Linked DNA regions of Homo sapiens. The protein of the gene in region 1 purifies or fractionates together with the protein of each later gene. This does not show direct contact. Each region holds a gene or a part of one and is shown on either strand. Other genes may lie near its edges. The genes, in order: FAM210A, COPB2 and IFT52.

What was found.
Region 2: the proteins of FAM210A (region 1) and COPB2 purify together in Homo sapiens (affinity purification with mass spectrometry, with the first as the bait; one study listed by BioGRID). This does not show direct contact.
Region 3: the proteins of FAM210A (region 1) and IFT52 purify together in Homo sapiens (affinity purification with mass spectrometry; one large-scale study listed by BioGRID and IntAct). This does not show direct contact.

Annotation. Positions count from the first base shown.
Region 1 is NC_000018.10:13,667,476-13,671,128, forward strand, and holds part of FAM210A (protein FAM210A), read right to left. Parts: intron 1-3,653. UniProt on the Homo sapiens protein: May play a role in the structure and strength of both muscle and bone.
Region 2 is NC_000003.12:139,358,545-139,362,197, forward strand, and holds part of COPB2 (coatomer subunit beta'), read right to left. Parts: intron 2,752-3,653; coding exon 2,537-2,751; intron 819-2,536; coding exon 726-818; intron 635-725; coding exon 454-634; intron 269-453; coding exon 200-268; intron 1-199. UniProt on the Homo sapiens protein: The coatomer is a cytosolic protein complex that binds to dilysine motifs and reversibly associates with Golgi non-clathrin-coated vesicles, which further mediate biosynthetic protein transport from the ER, via the Golgi up to the trans Golgi network.
Region 3 is NC_000020.11:43,635,937-43,639,589, reverse strand, and holds part of IFT52 (intraflagellar transport protein 52 homolog), read right to left. Parts: coding exon 3,577-3,653; intron 2,446-3,576; coding exon 2,337-2,445; intron 1-2,336. UniProt on the Homo sapiens protein: Involved in ciliogenesis as part of a complex involved in intraflagellar transport (IFT), the bi-directional movement of particles required for the assembly, maintenance and functioning of primary cilia. Required for the anterograde transport of IFT88.

The DNA.
Region 1 (3,653 bases):
TGGGAGGCTTAGGTGGGTGGGTCACCTGAGTTCAGGAGTTCAAGACCAGCCTGGCCAACATGGTGAAACCCAGTCTCTAATAAAAGTACAAAAATTAGCCGGGCGTGGTGGCAGGCACCTGTAATCCCAGATATTTGAGAAGCTGAGGCAGGAGAATCGCTTGAACCCGGTGGCAGAGGTTGCAGCGAACCGAGATTGTACCATTGCGCTCCAGCCTGGGCGACAAGAGTGAAGCTACCTCTCAAAACAAAACAAAACAAAAAACATAGGTGTTGGCAGGTACAATGGCTCACGCCTATAATCCCAGCACTTTGGGAGGCTCAGTCGGGAGGGCTGCTTGAGCTCAGAAGTTCAAGACTAGTCTGGGCAACATAATGAGACCCTGCCATCTCTTAAAACACAAAGAAAAAGAAAGAAGAAAAAGAAAAGAAAAATACTTAGCCGGGAGTAAGTGGCATGTGCCTGTAGTCCCAGCTACTTGGGAGGCTGATGCAGGAGGACTGCTCGAGTCTAGGAGTTCGAGGCTGCAGGGAGCTGTGATTGCACGACTGCACTCCAGCCTGGGAAACAGCAAGATCCTGTCTCAAACGAAACAAAACAAAATGCATAGGTGTGTTGTATAACAAAACTTTGAAAGAGCTGTCTGCTCTATCTCTAATTTCTCTCCTAAACTCACGTTAAGCAAGCTTTCACCCATACCTCTTCACCAAAACTGCTTTCAAAGTCACAGTGACCTCTACAAAACTAAATCCAGTTGTCAATTTGGAACCAGCCCCTGAACCACTGGAACCATCCCACACAGCTTTCACCTTCCCTTCACTTGGCTCCAGGCCCTCAACTTGCTGGGCTTCCTTCTAGTTCATGGCGGCTTCTCATTTTTGCCAATTCCTCCCCTTTCACCCACCTCTGAACGTGGTGTGACAACATTCGATCCCTGGACCTCTTATTTTCTCTACCTATCTCACTCTCTGGTCTTTAGTGCCAACTATACATGGATGATTCTTAACTTTAATCTCCAGACTGAACTTTTCCCCTGAATTCCAGTATATACAACCACCTCCATTTGCATATCTAATAAGATCTCAAACTTAATGCAGGTGAGTCACTTAATGGGGATACGGTCTGAGAAATGTGTCATTAGGTGATTTTATTGTTGTGTGAAACTTCACAGAGTGTACTTACACAAACCTAGATGGTGTAGCCCTCTGCACACTCAGGCCACAAGGTATAGCCTATTGCTCCTAGGCTACAAACCTGTACAGCACACTACTGTGCCGAACACAGTAGGCAATTATAAGACCACAGTAAGTATTTGTATACCTAAACTATCTAAATGTAGAAAAGTTACAGTAAAAATATGACATTCATAAAAACATGGGACCTATGGGACCATCACTGTCTGTAGTCCATGGTTAACCGAAATGCTGTTGGGTGGCACATGACTGCATGTTCAAAACTGACCTTCGGATCTTCGACTGTCCTACTTCAAACCTGCTTCTCTCAAAGTCTTACTCATCTCAGAAAATGGCAATTCTATTCTTCCAGTTGTCCGGGCCAAAAACTTACAAGAAAGCTTCAACCCCTCTTTCTTTTCCATAATTTATATCCAAACCATCAGAAAACCCCAGCAACCACGTCTTTAAAACGTATCGAGAATCCAACTACTTCCTGCTACCACCTGGGTTCTGGCCACTATTGCCTCTCAACTAAAATACTGTAATCACCTCACCTCACACCAGGTCCCTTGGCTTCTCCCCTGATCCCGCCATGGTCTGTTACTAGAGCAGCCAAAGTGATTTTGATGGAACAGAGGCAGGATGCTTAAAATTGTCCAGTGGCTTTCCATGTCCTCAGGGTAAAAAGCAAAGTCCTTTTAAGGGCCAACAAGGCTGTCCTGATCTGATGACACGCCATTCTCTGCCCTGTTCACTGATTCCGGTCACACTAGCTTCCCTGCATCCCTCAAATACTCCCAGGATCCTGCAGCCTCAGAACTTTGTCTTTCGGATTTTCTCTGTTTGGAATGCTCCTCCCTCTTGGAGGAGCAACTCTCTCACCTTCTCAGCAAGGTGTGCCATCTCCCATTGAAAAACAAATCCATACCCCCATCCCTGGTTTCCTTTCTTAGCAGTTACCATCATCTACGTACACACACTTTGTGTGTGCATGCATTTCTAACTTTACCTTGTCTCCCCAACCCACTACCACTCACTACACTATCAGCCCTATGAGGCAGGTATTTTGCACTGTCTTCTTTGATTCGTTTATTCCCAGTACCTAGAATGGTACCTAGCACACAGCAGAGGATGACTAAAACTCTGGGTGTATTTCAAAGAGATTATGAGGCAGTCAGTGAATATATCCCGTAGCCAACTGCCACCAGACCATACATGCCATACTTCATTTGGGGACTTTGTCTTGTTGAAGCAATAAATCTGTGTCTGTTGCTCTATTTGAGAAACTGGGGGTTACAGATAATACAAAGGAGAATCCCCTCCATATCTCCTACTTCACAGAGGAATAGTGAGGGGGAAGAAACACCACTGGCACTCATCTCCCTACCATGACGCCTACAGCCTCATTTTCAATCCCAACTCCACAAACACGTGCTGAGCATTTTATTCACCTACAGAACATAATACCAGGTGCAGTGAAAAAAAACAAGAAAGAAGACATGATTCTGAGTTCCTGGGAGCTCCTAATCAAATAAAACAAACACTTAACACCTAGCACACACTGTGCTATCAACTGTCATGCTATGGGAGTGGGATAAGGAGCAATTAAATTAGGGAAGGTTTACATCAGCATGATAGTTTGACTTACTCGGGTTAAAATTATACCCACCATAATTAGAAACTTGATAATTTTTAAATTTAATACACTTTAATGTAGAAAAACTCAAAAATTAAATGTTAGCCCTCTCATCAAAATTATAATAAAAGAGGAAATCTACCAAGATTTCAGAGGATGCTAATGAGGATGACAGAATGAAACAATGCTACTTTTGAGTAATGCTGTAAAACTGTAATTCTTAGATATTCTTATACAACAGAAGTAAAATAAAACATCTAGTTTCTGTGTTTTCAACTTCCTTAGGTAGAAGTTTCACAGACCCTCATAAATATTTGTCAGTTTAGAAAATGAGATTAATATGGCTAAACTCCACAATTTACAGTGAGTCTTCCCTTCCAAAATAAAGACCCATAGGCATAGAAGCTATCAAGATGATGCTGTCAGGCCGGCTGCAGTGGGTCTCATCTGTAATCCCAGCACTTTGAGAGGCCGAGGGCGGGCAGATCACCTGAGGTCAGAAGTTTGAGACCAGCCTGACCAACATGGAGAAACCCCGTCTCTACTAAAAAAATACAAAATTAGCCAGGCATGGTGGCACATGCCTGTAATCCCAGCTACTTGGGAGGCTAAAGCAGGAGAATTGCTTGAACCCGGGAGGCAGAGGTTGCGGTGAGCCGAGATCGCGCCATTGTACTCCAGCCTGGGAAACAAGAGTGAAACTCCGTCTCAAAAAAGTTGTCTGAATCCGGAGAATAGTTACAAAGATTATCAACTTTTAAAATGAAACATATGTTAGGTTAAAATCTAACAGAAAAGGGTTTATCATATAAGACAATTTGGATTAAACCTATTTTACTTGC
Region 2 (3,653 bases), on another chromosome or scaffold:
ATGGGCGCCTGTAATTACCCCAGCTACTCGGGAGGCTGAGGCAGGAGAATGGCGTGAACCCGGGAGACAGAGCTTGCAGTGAGCCTAGATCGCGCCACTGCACTCCAGCCAGGGCAATGGAGCGAAACTCTGTCTCAAAAGAAAAAAAAAAAAAGTGAACCATCTCAGCCAAATTTATCACATGAAGTGCTCTACTGACCTGTTGAGCTGTAGATCTTGAGGGCTGAAAGTCTTTTCCCTCTTCCATGACATTTCTCTCTTCATTTGGCTATCAGAGAATAAAGCAATGATGAAATGAGATATTCTGAAATCATAATTTACCTATGAACTTGGCCTAAATCCCAGATATCAGCTCTTAATTTTAAAAGAAGACAGCAGTTCAAAATCTGAAGTCCTGAATGTACTTCCACCCTGTAGTTACAATAAATGAAGCTTGACATCCTGGCCACTCACCGTGACAAGTGGGTATTGTTTGGCTGGCCACAGATCAGCATGTGTTTCCTTCACCCATTCTTCAACAACAAAGGCTTCTTTTAATCCAGGGAACAGGTTTTCATACTCTGTTGGGTCAGCAAGGGATTCTGCTGCTTTCTGATTGACTTTTGAGAGATTCTCTCTCCAGAGTTTCACTACCCTATTATAGACATCATGGAACCAAAGAGAGACTAAGTAAATGTGCTCTCTTTTTATTGGAAACATTTCTTCCTAAAATTAAAAGTCTGTACCTTGAAACCTGACTGGGTAAGTAAGTTCGGGCCAAGAAGGCAGCTTCTGGCAGCCGTCCAGTTCTAATTAAGAGCTCTAGGCAGGCATCAACCCTAAACATTAAAAAGGAGAGGTACTGTTACCAAGAATAAACACTATAATAATGGGTACTTAACACAAAGTAAATTTAGTGTTACAAAGCCAAAAATCTCCCCAATCTTCACACATATATCTCATTTCTGTCACTTGTCTTTTAATGGTTGTTAATCAACACACTGCAAGGGTATGAGGGATAAGACAGCTTTCCTGACTACTTTGAATCTACTTAACTTAATTATTATAATTCCTAAGAACCTAAAGGGGCTTTTCAAGAGGAGTTAAGGCAGGTTAGATTAGCAAATTTTAAAGGCATAAGGATATATGCCAGCAGAAATTCAGTTCCACAAGACAAATATCTAGGGCAGTGTCTCCAACATGGGAAGGGCCAGACAAGCCAGTGGTGCCCAGCAGAATACCATGGTGTCTTATTTTTTCTTCTATTTTAATTTCATTTTTTTTCTGTGCAAGTTTTATGATGTGGACAATATGTTTCAGAATTCAGGATTTTTTGGATTTTCGAAAGGTGATACAGTATGTATACTATGTATTACCTTACATCCTCAGCATGAAAAAGCCACAAACATTAATACTGCAATAACTTACATAGGAATGTTAAATGCAATAAAAATGTACCAAGTTGGTATAAAAGCAACTAAAAATACTAAAGCAGTTCAGCTCAGGTCTTGCCATCAAAACAGTTATAACTGTTTTCAGAATATTTTTGGATTTTTGAATTATGGATAAGGAATAGGGTCTATTCTTACAGGTATATAAATTCATAAATACATTCACATACATACAATGGGGTGCACGTTCAAAGTTATATGGCGAAGTATGGGATTGTAAAAAAAAAAAAAAATCAGTATGTAGGAGAAGGTTAAAGAATACTTTCGGGCTGGGCGTGGTGGCTCACACCTATAATCCCAGCACTTTGGGAGGACGAGGCAGGCGGATCATTTGAGGTCAGGAGTTTGAGACCAGCCTGGCCAACATGGTGAGACCCCATCTCTATTAAAAACACAAGCCGGGTGTGGTGGCGCATGCCTGTAATCCCAGCTACTTGGGAGGCTAAGGCAGGAGAAGGGCTTGAACGAGGGAGACAGAGGCTGCAATTAGCCGAGATCATGCCACTGCACTCCAGCCTGGGCAACAGAGTGAGATTCCATCTCAAAAAAAAAAAAAAAAAAAGGAAAGAATACTTTTGTGTTTTATTTCATAATACTGCCAACTAATGTCCAAATGATTTGGTTTATGCTAACTCGGTTAGACTTAAAAATATGAGACATCTTTATGCTTTATAGTGGGCTCAAATCTACAAGTAAGTGGCATACTTATCCCCTTTTGTTCTTGCCATAAATGGATCAAAGTTATCCAATTTGGGTAAAATCACCTGCCCTTCAGGTACCTACTAGAGCAGCTCAATAGCCTCCTGCAATCATAAAATAAAATGCTTCCACCATTAACTGGCAGGGCTGTTGAAGAAGGTGTTTAACATTTCTCCCACTTGAGCCTCCCTGAACAGCTCATTTAGCTCAAACATTTAGATAGATGTGCTAAGGGCATCCCTTGCTGAAGGTGAGTGCCACCAAGGCAGCACTGTCCTGTTCTGACTGCCCCGTCTATTCAACACCATTTGGCCATTCATCAGTTCTCTCCAGGGTTCATTCTTCACTTCCCTCTCCAAAAACCATCCTCAGTGTAGAATTAATTAATCTTTTAAATTAATACTCACTTGCCCTGTAAAAAGTAGCTCATGAATGCCACATTATTTTTGCCATCTCTCTCCGCACCCTCTGCTAGCTTGTTCACCATATTAGCATTTCCAGAGGCAGTGGCCAAAAGCAGCAGGCCCCCATAATCCTGTGCATGATGCAGGCACTCCTGGGCTAGGCCAAACTGACATTTACTAATGGCAAGTTCAGCAAGTTGTTTCCACTTCTGTTCTGACTGTAAGAAAAGAGTTTCCAAGTTAAAATATCTTTAGAAATAAGCATTTACATTTCCAACATTATTCTGTTAACTGTGCAGACAATGTTTATAAAAAGAGCTGTGTTTGTTAAGTTGGCTCTATCAAAATAAGAATGGCATTGCAAAATGTACAGTGAGGAAATGGAAATTATTAATGTATACAAAATGAATTTAAACACAAATCAATTTTAATGATGTGCAAATAATTATCGTCAACCCATTATACTTTTATCTTATAATTACACAGGGAAAGTAAAACCATCTCACTGGAGTTTTAAGGCAATTAGACTGCAATTATTTTAACAAGTGATTTAATATCACTTTTTTGAAAGCATACAAAACTACGTCTTTAAATATTTCACAATAATATTATGTCTCACTTGTAGCTTTTCAGAACTCAAAATGCTGCATGTTTAGATGATCTTAACGTAGCTAAAATTTATTTTGCACATCTGAAATTAATTTACCAGTAAATGCCAGTCTGAAACAATTGGGAGCCTCAATATACAAAGATCTATAAAAATATCATTACAAAAATGGTATTAACATTTCTCCCACTTGAGCCTCCCTGAACAGCTCATTTAGCTCAAACATTTAGACCAGATGTGCTAAGAGCATCTGCTGCTGAAGGTGAGTGCCACCAAGGCAGCACTGTCCTTCTCTGACTGCCTGCTCTATTCAACACCAAAAGATGAGGGGGTTGGGCTGTCTTTCAAAACCAACATATTTTTAGTTAGTTTCAGACATTGGCAAATAACTGCTATGTCTGTACTCTTAGGCTTTCCAGACTAGTTTACATACTATTTTACATCTTTTCTTATCTTGCAAAATAGAGCTCACATAAGATATGAAAACAATTTTTCTTAAAACAAATTAGAGTG
Region 3 (3,653 bases), on another chromosome or scaffold:
CAAGCGATTCTCCTGCCTCAGCCTCCCCAGTAGCTGGGATTACAGGCATGCGCCACCACACCCAGCTAATTTTGTATTTTTAGTAGAGAAGGGGTTTCTCCATGTTGGTCAGGCTGGTCTTGAACTCCCAACCTCAGGTGATCTGCCCACCTTGGCCTCCCAATGTGCCGGGATTACAGGCGTGAGCCACTGCACCCAGCCTTTTTTTTTGTTTTTTTGAGACAAGGTCTCATTATGTTGTCCAAGCTGGTCTTGAAATCCCAGCCTCAACTGATCCTCCTGCCTTGGCTTTTTGAAGTGTTCAGATTATAGGCATGATCCACCGTGCTCAGGCAATTTTTTTTTTTTTTTTTGTAGAGATGGGGTCTATGTGACCCAGGCTTATTTCATACTCTTTTTAACCAATCCCCCTAATGATGGATGGACCATTAGACTGTTTCCAATTTTTTGAATGCTATAATTAATATCTATATCTTTTTTGTCTTGCATTTCTACAAGGATTTCCATAGGACAGTTGCTAGAAACAGAAATGCCAAGTCAAAGCTGCTTCTTCACCGTTCTGTGATTCCTCCTGGACTCATCACTATGTCCTGCTCATTTTTGACTGCCCAGGACCCACAGCAATGCCTGCCACAGAAGAGAGATGCAGTAAAGGTCTTCGTTTACACTGAACTGTTTCCATTTTGCTTACTTCTTTCTGGGCTTTGGGCACATACAGATGTTACTGACATAGCTGGTATCCTCTTGTACATGCAGTTTTATATCTTGCTTTCTTCATTCAGGATTCTCTCTTAAATTCTGTCTGTGTCATATGTGTCATTCCCTAGCCTTTGTGAACCTCTTTTATAATGACTACATATTCTCCTACCAAATGAATGTGACGCATTTTAAGACCATTACTCTGCTAGTGGACATTAAAGCTATTCCCAAATTTATAGTTTTTTTCTATTTTTAAAAATTGTTATTTTTTTAAAATATATTTTTAGAGACAGGGTCTTGCTATGTTGCCCAGACTGGTCTTAAATTCCTAAGTTCAAGCGATCCTCCTACCTCAGCCTCCCGAGTTTATTGTATTTTAAAAATAAATAGTGTAGAAGTTGGCCGGACGTGGTGGCTCATGCCTGTAATCCCAGCACTTTGGGAGGCTGAGGCGGGTGGATCACCTGAGGTCTGGAGTTTTAGACCAGCTTGGCCAACATGGTAAAACCCCATCTCTACTAAAAACACAAAAATTAGCCATGCGTGGCGGTGGGCAACTGTAATCCCAGCTACTTGGGAGGCTGAGGCAGGAGAATCGCTTGAACTCAGGAGGCGGAGGTTACCTCGAGCTGAGATAGCACTATTGCACCCAAGGCTGGGCGACAAGAGTGAAACTTTGTCTCAAAAAAAAAAAAAATATAATCTCCTTAGATTAGAGTTCCAGGAGTGGGGTCACTGCCTCAAAGTGGATGGTTAATTTTATGCCTCTGAGCATATATGTGCAGACCCATTTGCTGTGTTGGAGGCAATTCATGTCAGGAGCAGCCCCAGACCAAAAGTCAGGAGGACCACTCACCGTGGAGCTGTGTGGCCTGGGGCCTCATTTCTTCATCCACATGTCAAGGTGGGCACACTTGGCTCTCTCTCAGATCCTGTCCAATTTGAAGTCTCTATCATTCTTTGGGCCTTACTCAATTTCCTTATTTAGCTGCTCCTATGACCACTGACTGAGATTTGCTAAGTGGCAGCCAGGGTCAAGATTAATTCTATGGTCTCTCAATAGGTCAGAACTAAGGACTCACAGGGATCAAAGCTGAGACCTTTGGCTTTCTGCTTGGCACTATGTTCTAATTCACTGAACTAAATAGCCTCGAGAAGAACAACCAACATTATTTACATGACATAAATAAGAATGGTAAGTTTATACTCCTATTCATATTTTGTTTTCCCTAAACAAACTCTAAGCAGTCTCTCATAGCAATTCTCAGAAATTCATGATTAAATAAAACTCATAAGAGAAAACAAAGTTTAAAAGTTGGCCAAACTTAGGCCAGGCATGGTGGCTCACGCCTGTAATCCCAGCACTCTGGGAGGCCGAGGCGGGCTGATCGCCTGAGGTCAGGAGTTTGAGACCAGCCTGACCAATATGATGAAACCCCGTCTCTACTAAAAATACAAAAATTAGCTGGGCGTGGTGGCGCATGCCTGTAATCCCAGCTACTCGGGAGGCTGAGACAGGAGAATCGCTTGAACCTGGGAGACAGAGGTTGCAGTGAGCCGAGATCGCACCATTGCACTCCAGCCTGGGCAACAAGAGTGAAACTCTGTCTCAAAAAAAAAAAGTTCGCCAAACTTACACTTATTGGTAATCTGAGCCAGCCGTGCCTTCTCAGAGGAGAACGTTTCATCTAAATCAAATAGCTCCAGAGGAGGAGGTGGTAACTCCCGGAAACTGGGAGGAAAAACCTAAAAGGAAATAAAGTCATTATTTAGAAATGAGGGAGGATAAGGTAAAGGAAATAAAGTCTCTCAAGAAAGAGCTTGTCCAAAATCATAACTAACAGTGATAAGACACAAGGAGAATAAGGAAGTTCACATCCTTAATTCCTCAGTTGGGAACCACACCACATGGAAACCCCTACAGAACAGTAACTCGGCTCTTCCCTGAGGATGAAATACCCAAACTCCCATCACCTCGTCTACCCTCACCCATTAGACCCATACCAAGAAAGATTATTAGCCCACTGTAAACAACCAAGTAGAACCAGCTCTAATTACCACTAAACTGACCAAGCTGACATACCAATGCTAATTAACTCAGAACGATGACACAAAGCTTGGGGCTTAGGTTTGTGTTGAACATTTGATTGTACAACTTGTTTCTCATTTAATCATAAGTTTTTAGGGATGGAAGTTATTTGGAGAACCAGATGCAGATTAGTGTAGAAAGTATTGAACCTGGAGTCACATTTTGTAGGTATGAACCAATGGTATGCGGGTAAATGTTTAACTACTTTCAAAACAAAACAAAACTGAAGGCCTGTTTTGTAGCATTTACCATTTTCTGTAATGTAAATCCTCTCACCATGGCCAATTTCAAGCTACCAAGCAAGATCAAGCTAACTGGCTCATAACATTTCAGAATGTGGTGAGACAAGGTAATTTTAAAGGCAAGTTGAATGTTGGACTGAAATGTTGAAAAATAACCTATTTACACACATGACCATAACTATCCCCTGGGCTGTGAGAATTATGTTATGAATCAGGCCCTGACACCTGGAATGGCAGTACAAAGTTTTCTTCCTTTTTATCCAAGAAATCTCATATATGCCCTCCAACCCCACAAGATGAGAATAGGAAATGTTTAATAGCCAGAAGGCTCCACATCCTTGATTCCTCAATTTGGAAGCATACCACATGGAAGTCTCTATAGAACATTAACAAATTTGGTGTCCATGCATGTTTAGAGACAGAGCACTATGACTCCACAAGGAGTGCCACAAATGGCACATGGAAGGGACCACAGCGAATGCCTGCTGACAAGATAAGGGCAACAGTGGGGCTCTGCAGTGGGATCTCCCAAGCACACCTACTCACCGCAGGCTGAAGGGTTGGCAGCGGCGTCTCAAACTGAGGCTGGATGAGCTGGAGTGGTTCATGTTTCACATTTAGCT